Homo sapiens: one gene and its partners. The protein of the gene in region 3 interacts with the protein of the main gene of each other region in a biochemical or structural test. Each region holds a gene or a part of one and is shown on either strand. Other genes may lie near its edges.

Evidence for each region.
Region 1: of the proteins of MARK3 (region 3) and KSR1, one has a biochemical effect on the other in vitro, tested with the Homo sapiens proteins (2 studies listed by BioGRID).
Region 2: the proteins of MARK3 (region 3) and POLI form a complex in vitro, tested with the Homo sapiens proteins (one large-scale study listed by BioGRID).

The regions. Positions count from the first base shown.
Region 1 is NC_000017.11:27,459,435-27,463,657, reverse strand, and holds part of KSR1 (kinase suppressor of Ras 1), read right to left. Parts: intron 1-4,223.
Region 2 is NC_000018.10:54,279,504-54,283,726, forward strand, and holds part of POLI (DNA polymerase iota isoform a (long)), read left to right. Parts: intron 1-1,163; coding exon 1,164-1,400; intron 1,401-3,333; coding exon 3,334-3,512; intron 3,513-4,223. UniProt on the Homo sapiens protein: Error-prone DNA polymerase specifically involved in DNA repair. Plays an important role in translesion synthesis, where the normal high-fidelity DNA polymerases cannot proceed and DNA synthesis stalls. Favors Hoogsteen base-pairing in the active site.
Region 3 is NC_000014.9:103,391,364-103,396,285, forward strand, and holds part of MARK3 (MAP/microtubule affinity-regulating kinase 3), read left to right. Parts: intron 1-4,922. UniProt on the Homo sapiens protein: Serine/threonine-protein kinase. Involved in the specific phosphorylation of microtubule-associated proteins for MAP2 and MAP4. Phosphorylates the microtubule-associated protein MAPT/TAU. Phosphorylates CDC25C on 'Ser-216'.

The DNA of each region.
Region 1 (4,223 bases), on a different chromosome or scaffold from region 3:
CTTCTAATTGGTCAGCCCAGGGGGCCCCCCTTTGCTGCAGGTAACCACAAAAACTAGAAGCCACAATGCCTGACACATAGCCCAGAACCTCAGACACAAGCAACCACAAAACTAGAAGCCATAGTTCCTGACACTTATCCCAGAATCTCAGCCAGAGGACCATGTCCAGCCTCTTTTTTTTTTTTTTTTTCTCTGTCATCCAGGCTGGAGTGCAATGATGCAATCTCAGGTCACTGCAACCTCCACCTCAGCCTCCTGAGTAGCTAGAACTACAGGAGCGTGCCACCATGCATGGCTAATTTTCTATTTCTTGTAGAGACGGGGTTTACCATGTTGCCCAGGCTGGTTTCGAACTCCTAGACTCAAGCTATCCACCAGCCTCAGCCTCTCAAGGTGCTGGGATTACAGGCATGAGCCACCGCACCCAGGCCCAGCCTCCTTTTAAACTCTTGGCCGTCAGTGTGATTACAGATGCAGTGGCAAATGGATAAATGTATGAAGGCTGCCATTCCTGCTTAGGAGAGGGGGAGTTATGATGCCATAAAGATATTAAAGACGAGGACAGATATTAAATGTATTCATATACTTTGACCCAGCAAATCTCACTTGTAGGAAGATACTCGTTGCAGCACCATTTATAAAAGCAAGACTTGGAAACAGCCTGAATGGCCCACACAGGGAAACCGGTTAGATGAATTTGTGGTATGACCACACAATGCAGCCACTAATAGTGCTGATGCATATGTATATGTGCTGATACAGACAGAAGACATTTACAAGGCAATGCACATGGTATGTGCCACAAATATACACATGTACATTTATATGCAAATGCAGGAAGAATATACAACAAAATGTGCACTGGAATTAACTCTGAGAGGTGGCATTATGGGTGATTTTCACTGTTGTACATCTAGTACTTTCTTTTTTATAGTGAACATATATCATTATGTATTTTGTAAATATTTTAATTAAAAGTAGAAAGTTAAAGAATACACTGTTTATCAGAGGAACTGTTCAGAAAGAATAAGACAGGTAGCCATTTAAAAAATTATGAGTAAACTGATCTCTAGGCAGCTTCTCCTTTCTCAGAATGAGACAAGCGTAGAGCGGGCTGCATCATGGTGCTGAGAGTCCTGTCTTTGAGGATGTGCTAGCCTGGACATTAGGGAAGCAGACCCATGCCCGAACCCTGAGGCTGCACAGCCTGGGTGGCCACCAGGAAGCCCAAACATCTAGAGTTGAGCCACGGAATGCCCTCGGCCCAGCCCTTTTTATTATTGGCCATTTCCTTGGTCTCAGCAACCATGGCCCTGCACAGAATCTCCCCGCCACAGCAACAGCTGTGGAGTTCTGAACATAAGTTCTCAAGACCAGTCAACCTGGGTTCAACCACCTGCTAAGACAGTCTCTCCATCCCTCTGAGCTGCAATTCCCTCATCTGCAACATCAGGATAAGGCCTCATAGCATCATTGTGAATGTTAAGGTGCAACATATGCCGAGAGCCTAGTGGAGTGCTCAACATAGAACAGGTGATCAAGCACGTTCTTCATCTGTGTCTGCCCTCTCTACTCCAAGATCATTCCCCTAACCCCAAAGGCACCTATGCAGCTTTCCCTTTGAATTAAACATAAAAAAGAGATCTCAACCAGCCTCTTCTGAAAGGATGGCCTTTTAAAAAGGCATAGCTTAGAGAGACTTGGCCACAGGCTTTGCTGCTTCTCCCCGGCATTGCAGACACTGCCACCGTGGGCCAGCGTCTCCGCATGGTCCATCTCCAGACACACCCAGCGGGCAGGAGTAGAATACCTGCGGCGCACTTTCCTGGATTTTGAGGCAGCCCAGACCACTCCAAGAAGAGGAAACAACCCTGACGTGGAAGAAGGCATTCCCATAGCTGCAGGCAGCAAACCACACCTCCAGATCTGATAAGACCTCTCTCCAGCACCACCCAGCCCTCCCCAGGCTCACAGCCACTGCGGGTCTCCCTCCAGGCTGCCTCTAAGAAACATTTGGGAGGTAGGTTTCACCAGGGAAAAAGTTACCCGGGTGAAAGTGGACACAAAAAAGGGCCAGAGCCCCAGCTCTGTATCTCTTCAGAGACGGCTGGAGCCACTTGGCCAGAGGGTTACAACTGTGGCCACAGAGCAGAAGCAGAGAAACGCCACACTTTGAGACAGTGGCTGGGTGGGAAAGCAAAACCAGGTTTCAGTCTCAGTTCTGCCAGGGACCTGTGACTTGGGAGAAGTCCCCAAGACTCTGGGAATATTTCCCAGAAAACCAGGAGGTGGCTCACACTTGTAATCCCAGCACTTTGGGAGGCCAAGGTGGGTAGATCACTTGAGGCCAGGAGTTCGAGACCAGCCTGGCCAACACGGCAAAACCCTATCTCTACTAAAAACACGAAAATTAGCTGGACATAGTGGGGCATGCCTGTAATCCCAGCTACTCAGAAGCTAAGGCAGGAGAATTGCTTGAACCTGGGAGGCTGAGATTGCAGTGATCCGAGATCATGCCACTGTACTCCAGCCTGGGCGACAGAGTGGGACTCTGACTAAAAGAAAAACAAAAACAAAAACAAAAAACAAAACAAAACAAAAAAACCAGGAGGTTGGATGGGCCAAGGGTTCAGTGGGGTTCCCAATGCAGGGTCCTGCAAGCTGTGCTACTAAAGTCATTACTGTGCCCTGCCTGGCTCCTTCACTAGACTAGAACTGTCCCTAGACCCCAAAGACTGGGAGAACAGCCCACCTACTTCAGAGCCCTTGCTAGGTGGCTGCCAGCCAGGTAAGCACATCAACAGTAACTAAAGGTCTGTCCAGGGAACGTGCCTCAACACACCCTAAGGACCCAATCTGCAGGAATGCCACCCCTCCCCTCTCCCAGCAGTTCCATCATCAGATGCTCCTGGGAGGCATAGGGAGAGCTCAGGTCCCCCACACGGTGGGACTCTGACCTCTGCCACGGCAGAGCTGTGTGAGGGCCAGGCCTCTCTGACCTTCCAGATGGCAGGAGGGCCTCCCCTCTGACCCCCTGCGGCTCCAGGGCAACTGCTCAGGAAAGCAGCCCAAGGGCAGAGACTGTACCTACCACAGTTCCCAACATCGCCTCCCAGCACAGCCTGACTCTGCACCTACCACAGTTGCCAACATCACCTCCCCCAGCAAAGCCTGATGGTCAAAGTCCTTCAGCCCCTTTCTCCACGCCAGCTTGCTTAGGAGGGATTTTTCTCCACAAGAACACAAGGTGGGGAGACTCAGCATGGCAGAGCCTGTCTCTGGAAAGTACTAGTAGGCTGGCAGGAAAGGGCAAGTCACAATGTCCCTGGAACATAAATCTCCATGAGGCAACATGTGTCTGCTTCTACACACCCTTGTCTCCCCAGCGCTGGGCAGATTCAAAGGAATGAAGGTAATTATTACTGGCATAGGTTGCAGGCCCAGCTATTAGGCAGGCCAAGTGTCCCTCTGTGAGTACACTGGGGCATAAGAACATTCCCGTTTGCCTCGGTGGAGTTTTCAGACCCCTAGGAGGGTCTAGCGGAGACAGAACACCAGCTCCTGCCAGGATGAAGTAGCCTCACAACTTCTGTTTACAGATTAATACCCTGGTTTCAAATTGTGCCTCCCTCCCTTTATATTTAGAGAGGGAAAATGTGTATGATGAAAACTGCTGATCTCCAGGAACGTGTGTGAGTTTGAGAAGAGTCAGGCACGCTGCTAGGCACACAGGCAGCAAACGTTAAGTCTCAGCTCCTTCTACCCTTTTCCATCCAAACTGGACCACCACACAGAGAAAAGCTATCCCCGGACAACCAGACACGCTGACCCACTACACCCCATCACAACCCAATTTCAGGCAGCAGCAGCCCATCCCTGGTCAGGGACCTCCACGGACATTTCACGTGCTGCTTCTCCCACTGAGTGTTTATTTAATGAAGGCCAGAGTGAGCTGGGGCTCCTCAGATTCTAGATAAGTCCGATGCAGTTGCACAGGCCAAGCCCTCCAGGTCAGATCCTTCTTCAAAAGCCAGGAATCCAGTGTTGCAAGCACAGTCTCTGGGGCCACGGCCTGGTGTGTGGGGAGCCCACAGAACAGGAAAGAACGCTGGAGTGGACACTGCCACTTGCCTGCCTGGCCCCAACACATGCTGCTGGCGGTGGACGGTCCCACCCAGCTTGCTGAGATTGTTTCCTGGCTTGTGTCACCCACCTGTATGAAA
Region 2 (4,223 bases), on a different chromosome or scaffold from region 3:
AAGTGCTGGGATTATAGGCATGAGCCACTACTCCTGGCCCATTATGTCCTTTCTTGTAGATAAACCAGTTGTTATCGTTTTGCCACATTTGCTTTCTCTTGTTCTCTCTATGGATTGCTTGGTTGGTTGATGAGCTATTTGGAAGTAAATTGCAGACATCCTGACATTTCATCTCTAAATACTTTTAGCGTTAGTCTCTTTGAGGTTAGGATGGTTTCATGTCATTCCAACACTGTTTTACACCTAAAGCAAATTTATTTTTATATAATTTTCTTACACTTTTCATAAAAGAGCTCTAAAACTGTGTACAGGTCAGAGATTGTTTCTAGCAGCATATACTGCTAGTGCGTGGTTAAGATTTAGATCTTTAAAGTATAATGTTAGCTTTCTTGTTATATAATAATACTTCTATGCCTACTTACGGGTAAATATGAGTAAAAGTTTTGCCAATGTCAGTAGGAATTTTTTTATGAGATCAGTTTTCACAATGTGTTAATTATTAAGCACTCCCACTACACAGTCACTATCACAGGCCCTTGGAATTTGCTTATTGAATTTGTTTACAGTATTCCTATGAAGCATGAAAGAGATTAGTCAAGTGGATAACAGGGTGGCAGTGATCTCTTAGTCCATTTAGTGTTGCTTTAACAGAATACCTGAGACTGGGTAATTTATAAAGAAAAAAAGGTTTATTTGGTTCATGATTCTTGTGGCTGGAAAAGTCAAGGTTAGGCCTCTGGTGAGGGCCTCAGGCTGTTTCCACTCATGGTGGAAGGCAAAAGGGAGCCAGTGTGTGCAGAGATCACATGGTGAGAGAGGAAGCAAGGGCTGGGGGAGGTGCCAGGCTCTTTTAACAACCAGCTGTCTTTGGAACTAATACAGTCAGAAACTTACCCCTGAGGGAGGGCTTTAATCTATTCATGAGGGATCCACCCCTGTGATCCCAACACCTCCCATTTGACCCCACCTCCAACACTGGGGATCAAATTACAACATGAGGTTTGGAGGGGACAAATATCACAACCATACCAGGTGATGATGGTGGTGGTTGTGGTGGTGGTGGTTGTTGGATATAGACTAAGCCCTCTACCTTTTAAAAATTATTTTGTGAAAAAGAAAAAGGTTTTTCTTGTGACTTTGAATGACATTTGTTGTTTTTAAAGCTATAAACCTGCTTGACGTCTTGCACATCAGACTACTTGTTGGATCTCAGATTGCAGCAGAGATGCGGGAAGCCATGTATAATCAGTTGGGGCTCACTGGCTGTGCTGGAGTGGCTTCTAATAAACTGTTGGCAAAATTAGTTTCTGGTGTCTTTAAACCAAATCAACAAACAGTCTTATTACCTGAAAGTTGTCAACATCTTATTCATAGTTTGAATCACATAAAGGAAATACCTGGTAAGACAAATATATTTGAAAAGTACATATACGTCTTATTTTATTTCTTTTAATTTAAAAAATTATAGATACAATGTAATTAATTCTTAGGTAGAGTTGTCTGTGAGTTTGTGTGCATGTGTGTGTGTGTGTATACTTGGTTCCTGGAAAAAACTAAGAAAAACTGTAATGTTTTCTCAAGCAAATTTGGATTAAGAAATATGTGAAGGTACTTTTCTTATTTTATCTACTTTTGTATGGTTAGAATATGGTCATGAAAGTTATAGCCTAGAAACATATGGTCCTTTATTTCCAGTCCCTGGGTCATACTCTTATACTGTACATTGCCTCTAGAGAGGGGAGTTCGTCTTTTACTAACTCTTTTGGGATTACATATAAAATATTAAGGCTACAATGGACTTTCCAAAACATCTAGGCCAAGGTCCTCATTTTAAAGATTAGGAAACTGATTTCCATGAGGAGTTCGGTGACCTATTTAGGTCATGGGGCAAGTTTGTATCTTTGAAGATTAAATACCCAAGTTTTTATAGGCCATCAATATGTTGAACTACATTTCTGTGGTATTGCTAGGGAATAAGATGTTATAAAAGAGTTCTGTGGAAGTGAATTTCTAATACCACTGAAACTTAGATGTCATACTTCACATTTTTAACTGATACTTGCGTGATTCCAAAATGTATTATACACTGCCTTGCCTTCCTTAGTATAGTATAACTATAATTTGAAGTTTTTTGGATGACTTTGGTAGTGCATTCTGAAGAACAATGTCAGGTTGTAATAAACTGAGGACTATATACTGGTGCAAAACATTCTTACTTGGCTTTACTTTCGAGTTCTTGTATCTTTTTTTTTTTTTTTTAACAGGCTTTCTCCTTTCTCACTTATTGCCAAATTGCCAACCTTCTTTTTTTTCTGCTGTGAAAAATCTGTCACTCTACTTTAATAGTTCCCCCTACATAGCCATCTCCTCCAACTTACTGCTTTTACTGTGCAAGAAAACCAGATAACTGTGGAATTACTGTTTTTGAATGAAAAGAATAAGGAGACATTAAATAGCCTGTTTTCTCTTGTGAATAAAGTATGACCGAATTTTAGTGCAAGAACTTTGTGACAGTTTTGCTAGCAAGATTTTTTGTTTGTTTGCTTTCTGGCTCATAGTTGTATTCTGGATGGTAAATGTTAGATATGACTTATGGATAAATGTGTGGTGGTGCGTATAGGAATCAGTTAGGTTACCTAATATGTACACTTAATTTATTTTAATTGCTCTAGTGGCAGCCTTTTTGTATATTAATAATAATCATGATTTCTGAATATTTCTGGAATATTACATAACAGGTGGTAAAATTTTTGTTTTAGTAAGACAGCATTTATTGGCTGTCTCTGTATTCATTTTATTTTACTGCATTTTGTGAGGACTTCAAAGAGGTGCATATAATTCAGGAGCCCTGAGTGGAAGAACAGCAACCTAGTTTGCAATGGGGTTTGATCTTTGCAAAATACAGTAGTCCCCCATTATCTGCAGTTTCACTTTTCACAGTTTCTATTACCTGCAGTCAACTGTGGTCTGAAAATAATAAGATATTTTGAGAGAGAGAGGCAGAGACCACATTCACATAACTTGTATATTGTATATTGTTATAGTTCTGTTTTATTATTATTGTTAATCTCTTACTGTGCCTAATTTATAAATTAAACTTTATCATAGGTATATATGTAATGGGAAAAACAGTACTGTATATATAGGGTTTGATACTGTCCATGGTTTCAGGCATCCACTGAAGGTCTTAGAATGTATCCCCTGTGGATAAGGGGGGACTACTGTATAAATTATAGAACTTAAAGATAAGATTGATATATTTATAATATTTTAATTAGCTTTGTTTTAAGGAGAAAAGCTATTTTAACATTGTATGCATTTCTTTTTATTTAGGTATTGGCTATAAAACTGCCAAATGTCTTGAAGCACTGGGTATCAATAGTGTGCGTGATCTCCAAACCTTTTCACCCAAAATTTTAGAAAAAGAATTAGGAATTTCAGTTGCTCAGCGTATCCAAAAGCTCAGTTTTGGAGAGGATAACTCCCCTGTGATACTCTCAGGACCACCTCAGGTACATGATGATACTTATTTTAATTAAGTACTGGTTATCACATTATTTGAGATAAAGATTTCTAGTTTTAGTACCATGTTCTTACTATTCTAGTTTGCTTAGTATGTGATCCCTTTCCTATTAGAAGGCTGATTTATTATTAATAGATTGGATTAATAAGTATTCTTAAATGGAATCTTAAGCATTGATATTTTGATATCTTAAGTTAGCTACTATGATTGAAGACAGTGCAACTTAATTTTAATAGCCTATAATGCATATATGAGGCAAAATATTTTAATCTGTTAAAAATCTTGTTTTCAGAGTAGTCCAGTGATTTAGCAAATGGGAAAGGTATAATCACCCAGTTAACATTGACTGATTTTTTTGCTATGGGACAAGCACTTTACTGAGTGCTTTAAATATGTTAGTCCATTTAATCTTCACAACAAAGCATCAAGGTAGGTAGTACTGTTGTTTGTCCATTCCTTCTTACTTCTCTTCTTTCCTTCCTTCCTTCCATTCTCTCTCTCTCAAGATGAGGATACCGTACTTTAGAAAGGTTAAATAACTTGTCCAAGGATAAACTTAGATTCAAGTCCTAGGTGATTAAGAACTCTTGCCATAATCATACAATAAAGCTTGGAGTTGGTACTAGAGCTTTAGAGTTTTCATAACTTTGAATTATTTTATATTAACTGTTTTATATTAACTGTTAATACAGTAATATTT
Region 3 (4,922 bases):
TCTCTAAAGCTTTTAGAAGAGATAAAGCCTGTTTTAAGAAAAAAGCAATACTTTTATCATATTTTCTTAATATCAAATATGCAGTATTTAAATTTTCTCACATTTCTAATTTTTAAACTGTTCAAATTAGAATCCAGCTTGAATTCATACATTATAGTTGGCTGATATGTCAAATATGCTTTTTTTTTTTTTTTAATTGAGATGGAGTCTTGCTCTGTCGCCCAGGTTGGAGTGCAGTGGTGCAATCTCGGCTCACTGCCAACCTCTGCCGCCCGGGTTCAAGCGATTGTCGTGCGCAGCCTCCCGAGTAGCTGGGATTACAGGCTCCCGCCACCATGCCTGGCTATTTTTTTTTTTTTTTTTTTTTTTTTTTTAGTAGAGATGGGGTTTCGCCATGTTGGCCAGGCTGTTCTCAAACTCCTGACCTCAGGTGATCCGCCCGCCTTGGCCTCCCAAAGTGCTGGGATTACAGGCGTGAGCCACTGTACCTGGTCAAAATATGCTTTTTAAAGGCAACCAAACAGTTTGCATTTCAGTTTATGTTCTATAGTTATATGGAGCCACGGATACATCCTTTTTCTATACTGGCAAAATGAGAAACATATTTTTCACCTGAATTTCAAAGGATATGACACTTCGTAAGCCTGGTAATGTTATTGGCCAAAGTACCAGAGGCCCAGGGCTTTCCCAGTTATTTAACAGTTACTGATATGTGTGCATCATGTACTTATTATTAGTTAATGCAAATAGTCCCCCAAATTTCTGACCTCTGTGAAACTGATGATGCTGTTGTCTAGTCAGTCATCGGTTATGTGAGACTGAATTAACCTATTCAGCAAGTGTGAATGCCTACCGTGTGTATGATACTGTGCTAGGTGCTGTAGAGGCCATATACCTGGGACACATAGCTTTCCTGCTCTTTAGGATTTCCTGCTCCTTGCAGGACAAAGCAGCCTGAGCTTTATGAAACTAGTCTGTAACTCTCAAACTTAAGCAAACATTAGAATCACCTGAAGGGCTTTAGAACCGTGATCACTGGGCCCTACCCCTAGACCTTGATTTTACCCGTAGAATTGGAATTTCTAACAAGTTGCCAGGTGATGTTGATGCTCCAGGTCCGGGGACCACTCTTAAGAATCACTATAGCAGGAATTTCTGATGTTTATTTATTAAGAAAAAAAAATCACTGCCTTAGTGTGCAGTGAAGGCTTGCTAACTAAACTATACTCCTTTTAGATTGTACTGTGACTATCAAAGGAAGATTTCCAGACCATTTAATTGAGTTTTCAGGTTCCATGAGTTTAAAAAAAACTGTTTATTAAAAATTGTGGTTCTGGAAAATAACAATAGTTGCCATTTGGTGATCACTTAACTGTATACCAGCCAGCAATACTTTGTAGAGTATCTCATTTAAAATATGTAATATGGTTTTATTTAATTAGCTTTTTTTTTTTTTAAATTTCCTGAGGCGGAGTCTCACACTGTTACCTGGGCTGGAGTGCAGTGGCACGATCTCGCTCGCTGCAACCTCCGCCTCCCGGGTTCAAGCGATTCTCCTGCCTCAGCCTCCCAGGTAGCTAGGATTACAGGCAGCCGCCACCACACCCAGCTAATTTTTAAATTTTATTTTATTTTTTGAGACAGAGTTTCACTCTTGTTGCCCGGGCTGGAGTGCAGTGGCATGATCTTGGCTCACTGCAACCTCCGCCTCCTGGCTTCAAGCAATTCTGCCTCAGCCTCCCGAGTAGCTGGGATTACAGGTGCCTGTTACCATGCCCAGCTGATTTTTTTGTATTTTCGGTAGAGACTGGGTTTCACCATGTTGGCAGGCTGATCTGGAACTCCTGACCTCATGATCCTCCCACTTCCCTCCTCGGCCTCCCAAAGTGCTGGAATTACAGGCGTGAGCCACTGTGCCCCGGCTTAATCAGCTTGTCAACTTCTAAGCACAACCTGTTGAATCAAGCTGTTTGGGCCTTATCAGAAAAAAGTTGGCCTATAGTTTCAGCTACTCAGGAGGCTAAGGCCAGAGGATCACTTGAGGCCAGGAGTTCCAGTCGACCTGGACAACATGGTGAAACTATGTATCTTAAGAAAGAAAAAAAAAAGTTGATCTCTGAAGAATTCATGAAAATATTTAGTCAGTTTTCAGGGAAAGATCTTATAGACTTCAATTTGAGCATCCTTATCTTATGTATGTAAATGAGGTAAAGGTTGAAATTTGCAGTAAATAGAATTTTGGTCATTTAAGTTATGTAGCTCATGATATATACATTGTATAACTATTTAGACTTACATGGTGCATGATTTACATTGTAATTACATAGAGGCTTATACAGTCTAATAAAAATTAATATTAACTATTTGATTGCAAAGAGGATTGTTCTGCATTTTATTACTTTTTTTTTTTTTTTGAGACAGAGTTTCACTCTTGTTGCCAGGCTGGAGTGCAATCTCGTGACCTTGGCTCACTGCAACCTCCGCCTGCCAGCCTAAGTAGCTGGGGTTACAGGCACACACCACCATGCCCAGCTAATTTTTTGTATTTTTAGTAGGGATGGGGTTTCACCATGTTAGCCAGGCTGGTCTCAAACTCCTCACCTTGGGTTATCCGCCTGCCTTGGCCTCCCAAAGTGCTGGGATTACAGGCTTGAGCCACTGCGCTCGGCCTGCATTTTATTATTCTAAGATATAGCCAAATTTTATGCCTGGAATTTTTTCCTGGGCTGGAACAAATTCCTAGTAAGAGTCAGGGAATATTCCGTGACTTGTGGCTTTGGTTAAAAAAGAAAAAGGAGTCAGGGAATGCAGTACCCTCTGATCACCACTGGGAGGACTAAAGCAGAAAATTCATTTGTCTCATATCCATTTTCAAATTTCAAATTAAACATGAAGGAGAAAATAAATCTCTTACCTGGGAAGCTTTAATGTCCTGTCTCACACAAGAAGTTAAAGGTTGTGCTTGGAGTTGGTCTGCAAAAGTAATAAGGAATTTGTACTCACCCGTCTGCACCTGCTTGTACAGAACAATTGGAAGGGCAGAAGTTGGCTTTGAAAGAAAAGGCCTTTTTTTGGAGGTGGGAGGGGCATCCAATTTTGTCTTCAGCCGAGAGTTCGCTAGCACTACACTCTAGCCACTCAAGCTGCTCAACTATGGTTGGTCTTGTGTACTTCTGTGTGCACTAGATAAGACATTGTTTCTGTGGGTTATGTGGGACCTTGAAGTTCAGTGTTGAAGCTCAAACAAAGCAGGTGTTTTTTCTGTATTTCTTGTTGACAGGCATTTGCTTTTTGTTGGACCTAAATATTGTGGGGTTTGTGTATGGACATTTGACACAAAAATCTGTATTGGTAGAATTTAATATAAAATCAGAGAAGTTGAATTCACAGGTTTTGTTCATAGAATTTTACATAACTCTAGTCTTTTTTCTTTTTTTGTGATGGAGTCTTGCTCTGTTGCCCAGGCTGGAGTGCAGTGGCATGATCTTGGCTCACTGCAACCTCTGCCTCCTGGGTTCAAGTGATTGTCCTGCCTCAGCCTCCCGAGTAGCTGGGATTACAGGCACCCGCCACCACGCCTGGCTAATTTTTGTATTTTTAGTAGAAACGGGGTTTCACCATGGCCAGGCTGGTCTTGAACTCCTGACCTCAAGTGATCCACCTGCCTCGGCCTCCCAAAGTGCTAGGATTATAGGCATGAGCCACAGCGCCTGGCCACAATCTTACACTACTTTCCTGAAGGGATGTGTGATGGAAAGAGTCTGGGCTTGAAAGTGGAAGACAAAAATGAGAGTCTAAGACTGATCGAGATAAAGATTCTGAAGAGGTAGAATGGACCTCATAAGATGGAGCAAAAAAGAAGGAACAACATATAAAAGGAGAAATTAGAATTTAGAGTTATAGACTGGAATTTGAAACTAGTCTTGAGATTTAACTGTGGACAAATTCACTCGGCTGTGCCTCATGGTTTTTTTTTTTTTAAATCAAAAGAGAATAACATCATTCAAGTTGTGTCTTGGTTTTTTTGTTTGTTTACTTAGATTTTTATGACTTCACTTTCTCAATTTCCTCTGTGGCCAGATTCATCAGGCATTCAGTCACTTTCATCTCTGTCAGGCTGGCCTTGTGTTCTGTCTGTCTGTTCTGCTGCATAGTTGTCATCCTGAGATCTCCCTTCACCCATATCCTAGGGATTCCCTTTGCCTTTCCTGTTCGATCCATTTTCTTCCCCTTGGTTCACTCCCAGGTTTCATTGCAGCAGTTCCTCCAGTGATTTTCTGAGAAAGTTGCTCAGAGGTAAATTTTTAAAATCCTTTCATATCTGCAAACATCTTTATTCTGTTCTCATACTTGATTGATATTTTGGCTGCATATAGAATTCTAGACTGAATGCCCTTTTTCCTCAGAATTTTGTTTTCTGTCTTATATAGCATCTGACACTCCGATTTGGAGAGAGAGAATGCTATTTTGAGTCTTGCTTATTTTTCTGTTTGTTTAAGGCTGATTGGAAGTTTTGTGCATTTGGATGGATCTTGAATACAACAGTGGGACACACTGTTATTTCTTTGTGGTGCTCTTGATACCAATATATTTAGTCTTATCACTTGGCCTAGGCAAGCACGGAATGCCCATGTTCCAGGGAGCTGAGTCGGGAGAGGGCAGAAGGAAAGATCTGTGGCTTTCTGCTTTCTCTGCTTGTTTTCAGTGTCCCTGCCCTCAGTTGTGCCCTGTGTCCCCAAGCCCAGAGACTTTCCATTTTGCCCTTTCTAAAGAACCTCCAGTTTTTTGCCTGAGTGGGAGAGGAGACCCGGGGGTCTGTTATTTAACAGACTGATAGATCTTCTTGTTTCAGGCTTACTTCACTCACACTTCTAGAGGTACTTGTACTACCAGTTCCTGAACCTTTTGAGAGTTCTATAATA